Homo sapiens: one gene and its partner. The gene in region 1 interacts genetically with each later gene. Each region holds a gene or a part of one and is shown in the gene's direction. Other genes may lie near its edges.

The links.
Region 2: changes in G6PC1 (region 1) and NF1 together harm fitness more than expected from each alone (negative genetic interaction), as found in Homo sapiens cells (one large-scale study listed by BioGRID).

The regions. Positions count from the first base shown.
Region 1 is NC_000017.11:42,903,487-42,907,308, forward strand, and holds part of G6PC1 (glucose-6-phosphatase catalytic subunit 1), read left to right. Parts: intron 1-444; coding exon 445-554; intron 555-3,822.
Region 2 is NC_000017.11:31,370,655-31,374,476, forward strand, and holds part of NF1 (neurofibromin), read left to right. Parts: intron 1-3,358; coding exon 3,359-3,501; 3' UTR 3,502-3,822. UniProt on the Homo sapiens protein: Stimulates the GTPase activity of Ras. NF1 shows greater affinity for Ras GAP, but lower specific activity. May be a regulator of Ras activity.

The DNA.
Region 1 (3,822 bases):
GAGGATTGCCTGAGTTCAGGAGATGGAGACCAGCCTGGGCAACATGGTGAAACCCCGTCTCTACTAAAAATACAAAAACTAGCTGGATGTGGTGGCACACACCTGTAGTCCCAGCTATTCAGGAGGCTGAGGTGGGAGGATCCCAGGAGGTAGAGGTCACAATGAGCCGAGATTGCGCCACTGCACTCCAGGCTGGGTTACTGAGCCAGATCCTGTCTCAAAAAAAAAAAAGATAATACATTCAAACAGTTCAAAATGCAAAAGTTACATACATAAGGAAGTGTCATGAAATATCTCCCTCTCACACTTCTCCCCAGCCACCCAGTTCTCCCTTCTAGAGGCAACATGTGAAATCCTTCTCAGGCTACACTCTTCTTGAAGGTGTAGGCTTTGGGCAAAAGCATTCATTCAGTAACCCCAGAAACTTGTTCTGTTTTTCCATAGGATTCTCTTTGGACAGCGTCCATACTGGTGGGTTTTGGATACTGACTACTACAGCAACACTTCCGTGCCCCTGATAAAGCAGTTCCCTGTAACCTGTGAGACTGGACCAGGTAAGCGTCCCAGCCCCTGCAGACAGAAGCTGAGTGGACCTCGTTTACCTGTTATGGATGAAACTGACCTTGAGGGGACATGAGGAGAGCCATTCCTTTGTACTTTTGTCATGCTCTTCAATTGGCACAAATTAATTCACTTCTGCAATACTTTCCTGAATAGCACAGTAGTATTGGAAATCTGCCTATTACAGAACCTGGATGGAGTCCAGAGAGGCACGGGCATCCATGGGCAAAGGGCTCGTGAGAGTCACCGCCCTGCAGCGCTGTGTCCTGAGAAAGGAGGGGGCAGAAGCCTGAGCTTCTGGGGGTCCTTCCCAATGGCCTGGCCCACTGGATGTGCCCTCCTGAGCTGACCGTCCAATCCCTTGCCCTCTCTGTGCCTACGTTTTATTAGTTACAGCCAGATGGTTACTGTCAAATCAAATGATAGATTTCATTTTCAGTATGTAATAGGAAGCCCCTCCCTCACCCTAAAGTCTCAGCTGCCCTCTAAGACTAGTACTCTCTAAGGTACTAGTATCCCTTCCTCAGAGACCCTTTCCCTGACCCCAAAACTAGGGAAGGTCCCTTAGTTATTTGCTCTCACAGACCACGCATTTACCTCAGAGCATATTCACTCATTCAGCTGTTACTTACCAAGCACCTACTGGGAGCTATACACTGTTCTATGTGCTAGGGATACCTCTGTCAGTGAACAACACAGACACAAAGATCCCTGCCCTTGTGGAGCTGAAATCTGAATAGAGGAGGTGAAATATACAAAAATTATAATAAATAAGTAAACTAGGCCAGTTGTGGTTGCTCATGCCTGTAATCCCAGCACTTTGGGAAGCCAAGGTAGGTAGATCACCTGAGGTCAGGAGTTCAAAACCAGCCTGGCCAACATTGCAAAATCCTGTCTTTACTAAAAATGGAAAAATTGGTCAGGCGTGATGGCACACGCCTGTAGTCTCAGCTACCTGGGAGGCTGAGGCAGGAGAATCGCTTGAACCTGGGAGGCAGAGGTTGCAGTGAACCGAGATCGGACCACTGCACTCCAGCCTGAATGACAGAACGAGACTCTGTCTCAAAAAAAAAGTAAACTATTAATATGTAGGATAGGCCAGGCACGGTGGCTCACCCTGTAATCCCAGCACTTTGGGAGGCTGAGGCGGGTGGATCACCTGAGGTGAGGAGTTCAAGACCAGCCTGGCCAACATGGCAAAACCCTGTCTCTACTAAAAATACAAAAATTAGCTGGGTGTCCTGGTGCATGCCTGTAATCTGAGCTACTCAGGAGGCTAAGGCAGGAGAATCGCTTGAACCTGGGAGGTGGTGAGCCAAGATTGCGCCATTGCACTCCAGCCTGGGCGACAAAATGAGACACCATCTGAAAAAAAAAAAAAAATATATATATATATACACACACACACACACACACACACACACACACATATAATACTAGAAAATGATTGTTTATAGGCAAAAAAAAAAAAAAAGAAGAAGAAGAAGAAAAGGAAAGGAGAAGGAAAGAAGGACCAAACATCTTTTGTAGAAATATGTTTGCTTTCATCATAACAGCTTGTTATCAAGGATGAATTTCTCCCTGAAATTAATGGAGGCACAGACTGGAAAGTTTAAAGTGGCTTTAAGAGGTTATTTTATTTAGTCCTCTGTCTTAATAGAAGCAAATTATTATCTCTGCTCCTTAGGTAGAGTAGCTAAGGCTCAGAAAGTAGGCCGGGCGCGGTGGCTCACGCCTGTAATCCTAGCACTTTGGGAGGCCAACGCAGGTGGATCACCTGAGGTCAGGAGTTTGAGACCAGCCTGGCCAACATGGTGAAACCTCGTCACTAATAAAAAAATACAAAAACTTAGCCAGGCATGGTGGCGGGCGCCTGTAATCCCAGCTACCCAGGAGGCTGCGGCAGGAGAATCACTTCAACCCGGGAGGCAGAGGTTGCAGTGAGCTGAAATCACACCACTGCACTCCAGCCTTGGTGACAGAGAAAGATTCTGTCAGGAAAAAAAAAAAAAAGTTTAAATGAATTACCCAAGGTATATAATTGTTAGTGTTAGAAGGAAGAAGAAGGGAGGGAGGAAGGAAGGGAGAAAGAAAGGGAAGGAGGAAGGGAGGGAGGGAAGAAAGCCTTTATTTATCTATGGGGTTCCCTGGAAAGCAGGCTGAAATGGAGATTCACGTGCAGGAGTTTAGATACTCTGGGGAACTATACTTGTAGAAGGGAAGGAACAGGAACAGGGCAGAAGGAGAGGTCCGGTTGTGATTCTGCCTCATCCAACCCCACAGCGAGCTCTGAAGCTGGGGATGGCTCCTCAGAGTTGGTCCAAGTTGGGACAAGGGAATCAGACCCTGGGGAGAGCGTAACCTTGATCAAGGCGACTCTCTTTAGCCCAGGGCAATGCCAGGAGAAGGCTGAGAGCAGAAAGCCATCTACCATCACACTCTCAACAGCTACGAAATAAGTCCTGCAGTTCAGGAGGGAGGTCTGGGCGGCACATCTCAGGACCCTCTATCTCTCAGGGTAGAGGAATTAAGAATGGGATGGGAACCAGACGGGCCATGGTGGCTCACACCTATAATCCCAACACTTTGGGAGGCCAAGGGTAGGAGGATTGCTTGAGCCCAAGAGTTCAAAACCAGCCTGGGCAAAAACAATCAAACAAACAAACAAAACACATTTAAAAAATTTGCTGTGTGTGGTGGTGTGCACCTGTGGTCCCAGCTACTCAGGGGGCTGAGGTGGGAGGATTGCTTGAGTCCAGGAGGTCGAGGCTGCAGTGAGCTATGATCATGGCACTGCATTGCAGCCTAGGAGACAAAGCAAGACACTGTCTCTAAAAAAACAAAAAACAAACAAATAAAAAAACGGAACCGGTTGCAAGCAGGGTTAAATAGCGTGGTCAGAGTAGGACTCACTGAGAATATGAGATCTGAGTCAAGTCTTCAAGGATGTGAGGAAGTAAGTTTCTGGCAGAAGAGCTGTGAAGGGCTGTCTGGCCAGAGAAGATTGCAATGCAAAAGCCCTGAGGTGGGAACGTGTTTGGTGTGTTTAAAGGAAAGCAATGAGGCCAGTGTAGCCAGAACAGAGTGTGCAAGGAGAGAAGGAACAGAAGATGTGGAGGGCAGATCAGTTTGTAATTGTACGCCCAGTATGCTGATTCTTTGTGTAATCTCCAGACTGTATTAAACTGCAAGAGCAGGGCCCCTCTCTGGCTTTGCTCATCATTGTATTCCCAGAGCCTTGCACAATGCTTGGTGCATAGG
Region 2 (3,822 bases), about 12 Mb from region 1:
CACTGTGCCCAAACAGAAGCATTGCCACCCATGTCATGACTGTTTTCCCCTCAGAGTAGGCCATGGTCTAGTAGTAGCAAGACACACAAGAACGAGCCCCAGGGTAGCAGATTGCTGGCAGAGAGTCACAGGGCCTTCCTAGTGGTCATCCATGCTTCATGCCCCTCCTGCATGCGGGCCAGCTCCAAGTTGTTTCAAACCTTTGTCTTTTTAAGGTCCTAGTTTTGCCTGAATCTTATTTTCTATTAAAGAAACAACTCAGAATTACTGGACTTGAAACTTGTAGGCCAAATGCAAATTTGAGGAAATGGAAGGTCAAATACGCTGACAAATTCATAATTTTAAGTGGAGGATGCCAAAGGGAAAAAAAAAAGTTCTATCTTTTCAACTAAAAATATTATACCACTCTCTGGAGATCAGGGATTGCATGCTTTGGGGCTCTGAATTACAGGTATCTAGCTATCACATTTTAAAATGGAAGTGTTCAGTTCATTCAGTATTAATTGAAAATAATTTTTCAATGTATTGAAAAAATAACTAGATTTTACAGGAAAACAAAAATGAATAATAATGATCTTTACCCTTCTCAGTGCCTTTACTCAGTAGAGGAAGATGGATGTACAAGTTGTAGAATCATAGGCAAGTTAATTTAAAAGCAAGGAAGGAGAAAGTAGTTCTGGCAAGAGACAGAATAATGCATCATGAAGGAAAAGGATATGAGAAAAAAAAATATGGGTTGAATTTTATCTTGTAGAGATACGCAAGACAATTAAAAGAGCCTACACAAACATACATCCCAAAGAAGCTCAAGGCACATTCCAGAGATCATGAGCAGCTTTCTTTCAGTTTTGTTATTTCTTTTGTAAATAGCTCTGGAGAGGATGCAAATAAATATACAGAAGAGAATTTAAATAGACCAGAATTCTGTTACCCAGAGAAAAGTTCCATGAATGTTTCTAGTCATCTTTCTATGCATATGATTAGATTAGATTAGATTAGAACATGACTAGCCTTAAAAAATTTAATAAGGGTTTTAAAAAAGATTTGAATAGAACAGATTTTCAGTGGTGGTTCAGCTATGCTCACCTCCTGGAGAAATGTCGCTGATGTTTTTCCTTGCACTCATATGCCTGATGCAGTGCACATGTTCATAAACAGTCACTGACAAATGCCCATGTTCCTTTGACAGCAGTTCAGATTTTCAAGACAGCAAATCTCTGTTGAGCACGTGTAAACCAGGCCACGTGCTTACAGATGCCTGATACTCTTGAGTCGAATTCAGAGCTGAATCCAAATGAAAGATGAGTGGCTCCTAGAGGGAGGTCATCCCAAGTTCATTTCCTGTTCATGAGCCAACAAATAACTAACTGGGTAGATCTATGTACATTTTCTGTAACATAATGAATACTTCTTGACTTGAAATATTACTTTTTGTCCAAAAATGGAAATTTTTCTATTCTAAGATTTAAAATTTCAATATATAAAGAAGAATAAAGTACAAATTAGCTGAAATCTTGCCATACAGAGGTAAAATATATTTTTTAGTCCTTTGGCTTCTGACAGAGATAAAATATTTTGGCAGATGTTTACCCAGCCCTACGCCCTCTCCCCACAGTGTGTGGGTGTTTTTTTCCTACTCCAAAAATTGTGGTCATCTTTTTGTATCAGTAAATATCAATCAGTAATGTACATTTTGATACAAATTACTAAAACGTTCTGCAGCTGTTTGCTTTCCCGCCAAAATTTATGCCAGCAGTAAGTATAATCAGTCTAATTTTGGGGGTAAATTTTATTGATGTTTAACAGAAAAGTTCACAAATTGCAAGTTTTCAGCTTAGTGAACTTTTAAAATGTAAACACACTTGAAAATCCATCATCTACATCAAGAAACAGAACATTACCAGCATCCCAAGAAGCCATCCTCATGCCCCCTTAAGTCACTACTTCCGCAAGGGTGACCACAGTCCTGTTACCCAATTTGTAATCTTTCCTAATGTGATAGATAAAAATAAAAATCTTATTTTAGTTTCTGGTTACTTTTCTGAAGTTACTGCTTAGATTATTTATAATATTAATTGGGGTGGGGTGCAGTGGCTCATGCTTGTAATCCCAGAACTTTGAGAGGCCAAGATGGAAGGATTGCTTGAGACCAGGAGTTCAAGACCAGCCTTGGCAACATAGTGAGACTCTATCTCTAGACAGAATTTTAAAATTAGCTGGGCATGGTGGCATGCACCTGTAGTCCTAGCTGTTTGGGAGGCTGAGGCGAGAGGATAGCTTGAGCCTGGAAGTTCAAGGTTATAGTGAGCTATGATCACACCACTGCACTGCAGCCTGTGCAACAGGGCAAGACCCTGTCTCTAAATAAATAATCAATCATTGTTAGGCCCAGGTTTTGGAGGTTTAATCTCCTCCTCAAGAGAAATAAATGGCATCTGTTTAAGGTTGCAGAATGTGAAATGACTTGGCATAGCTGAAAAGAAGCAAAGATTCTACAGTATGACCTTTGTGATATATTATTTTCTCAGTAAATAGTTTCTTTGGGATAGGCACTGTGATTAAAAAAATAAAAGCATCTTGAGTTTTCTTTGAAGTGACAAATTTGCTGGAAAGATCAGTACTTTCTGCTGCTGGAGAGTATATTCTGTTTATAAACATGAATGAGGATGTGAATAAGGCTAGAAGATGACCTCTGCTGGAAGTTTCTGGTATGATTTGGAGGAAGGAGCACTAGTCTTCCCTGGTGGCTGCTAGCCTTTCATTTAGTTCAAGCCTGCCAGCCTCTAGCTTTTCCTTGCAACTTGTCTTTTCATTTTTCTTGTGCTATTTTCTGCTATGATAGCAAACTTTGCATAACAAAATGTGAAGTTTTCCATGTGACATTAACTTAGTAAACATTTTAGCAATTGACTATTAAAATGAAATGTGCATAAACAATTTGCCAGGTTGTATCTTATCACAAATATAGTCATGTGCTGCATAACAACATTGCAGTCAACAACAGAACACATATAGACAGTGGTCCCGAAAGATTATAATACTGTATTTTTACTGTACCTTTTCTGTGTTAGATATACAAATAGTTAGCATTGTGTTACAACTACATAAAGTACACAATATGGTAACCTGCTGTACAGGTTTGTTGCCTGGGAGAAACAGGCTATACCATATAGCCTTGGTGTGTAGTAGGCTATGCTATCTAAGTTCATGTAAGTACACTCCACAATATTTGCACAGACAAAATCGCCTAATGATTGTTTCCTAGAATGTGTCCCCGTTGTTAAGCGACACATGACTGCAATGAAATTCAGTCCTGGAAGGAAAAGAAGAAGTAACTGGCTGTTCTCTTTTTCTCCAGGAATCGACAAGGAGAACGTTGAACTCTCCCCTACCACTGGCCACTGTAACAGTGGACGAACTCGCCACGGATCCGCAAGCCAAGTGCAGAAGCAAAGAAGCGCTGGCAGTTTCAAACGTAATAGCATTAAGAAGATCGTGTGAAGCTTGCTTGCTTTCTTTTTTAAAATCAACTTAACATGGGCTCTTCACTAGTGACCCCTTCCCTGTCCTTGCCCTTTCCCCCCATGTTGTAATGCTGCACTTCCTGTTTTATAATGAACCCATCCGGTTTGCCATGTTGCCAGATGATCAACTCTTCGAAGCCTTGCCTAAATTTAATGCTGCCTTTTCTTTAACTTTTTTTCTTCTACTTTTGGCGTGTATCTGGTATATGTAAGTGTTCAGAACAACTGCAAAGAAAGTGGGAGGTCAGGAAACTTTTAACTGAGAAATCTCAATTGTAAGAGAGGATGAATTCTTGAA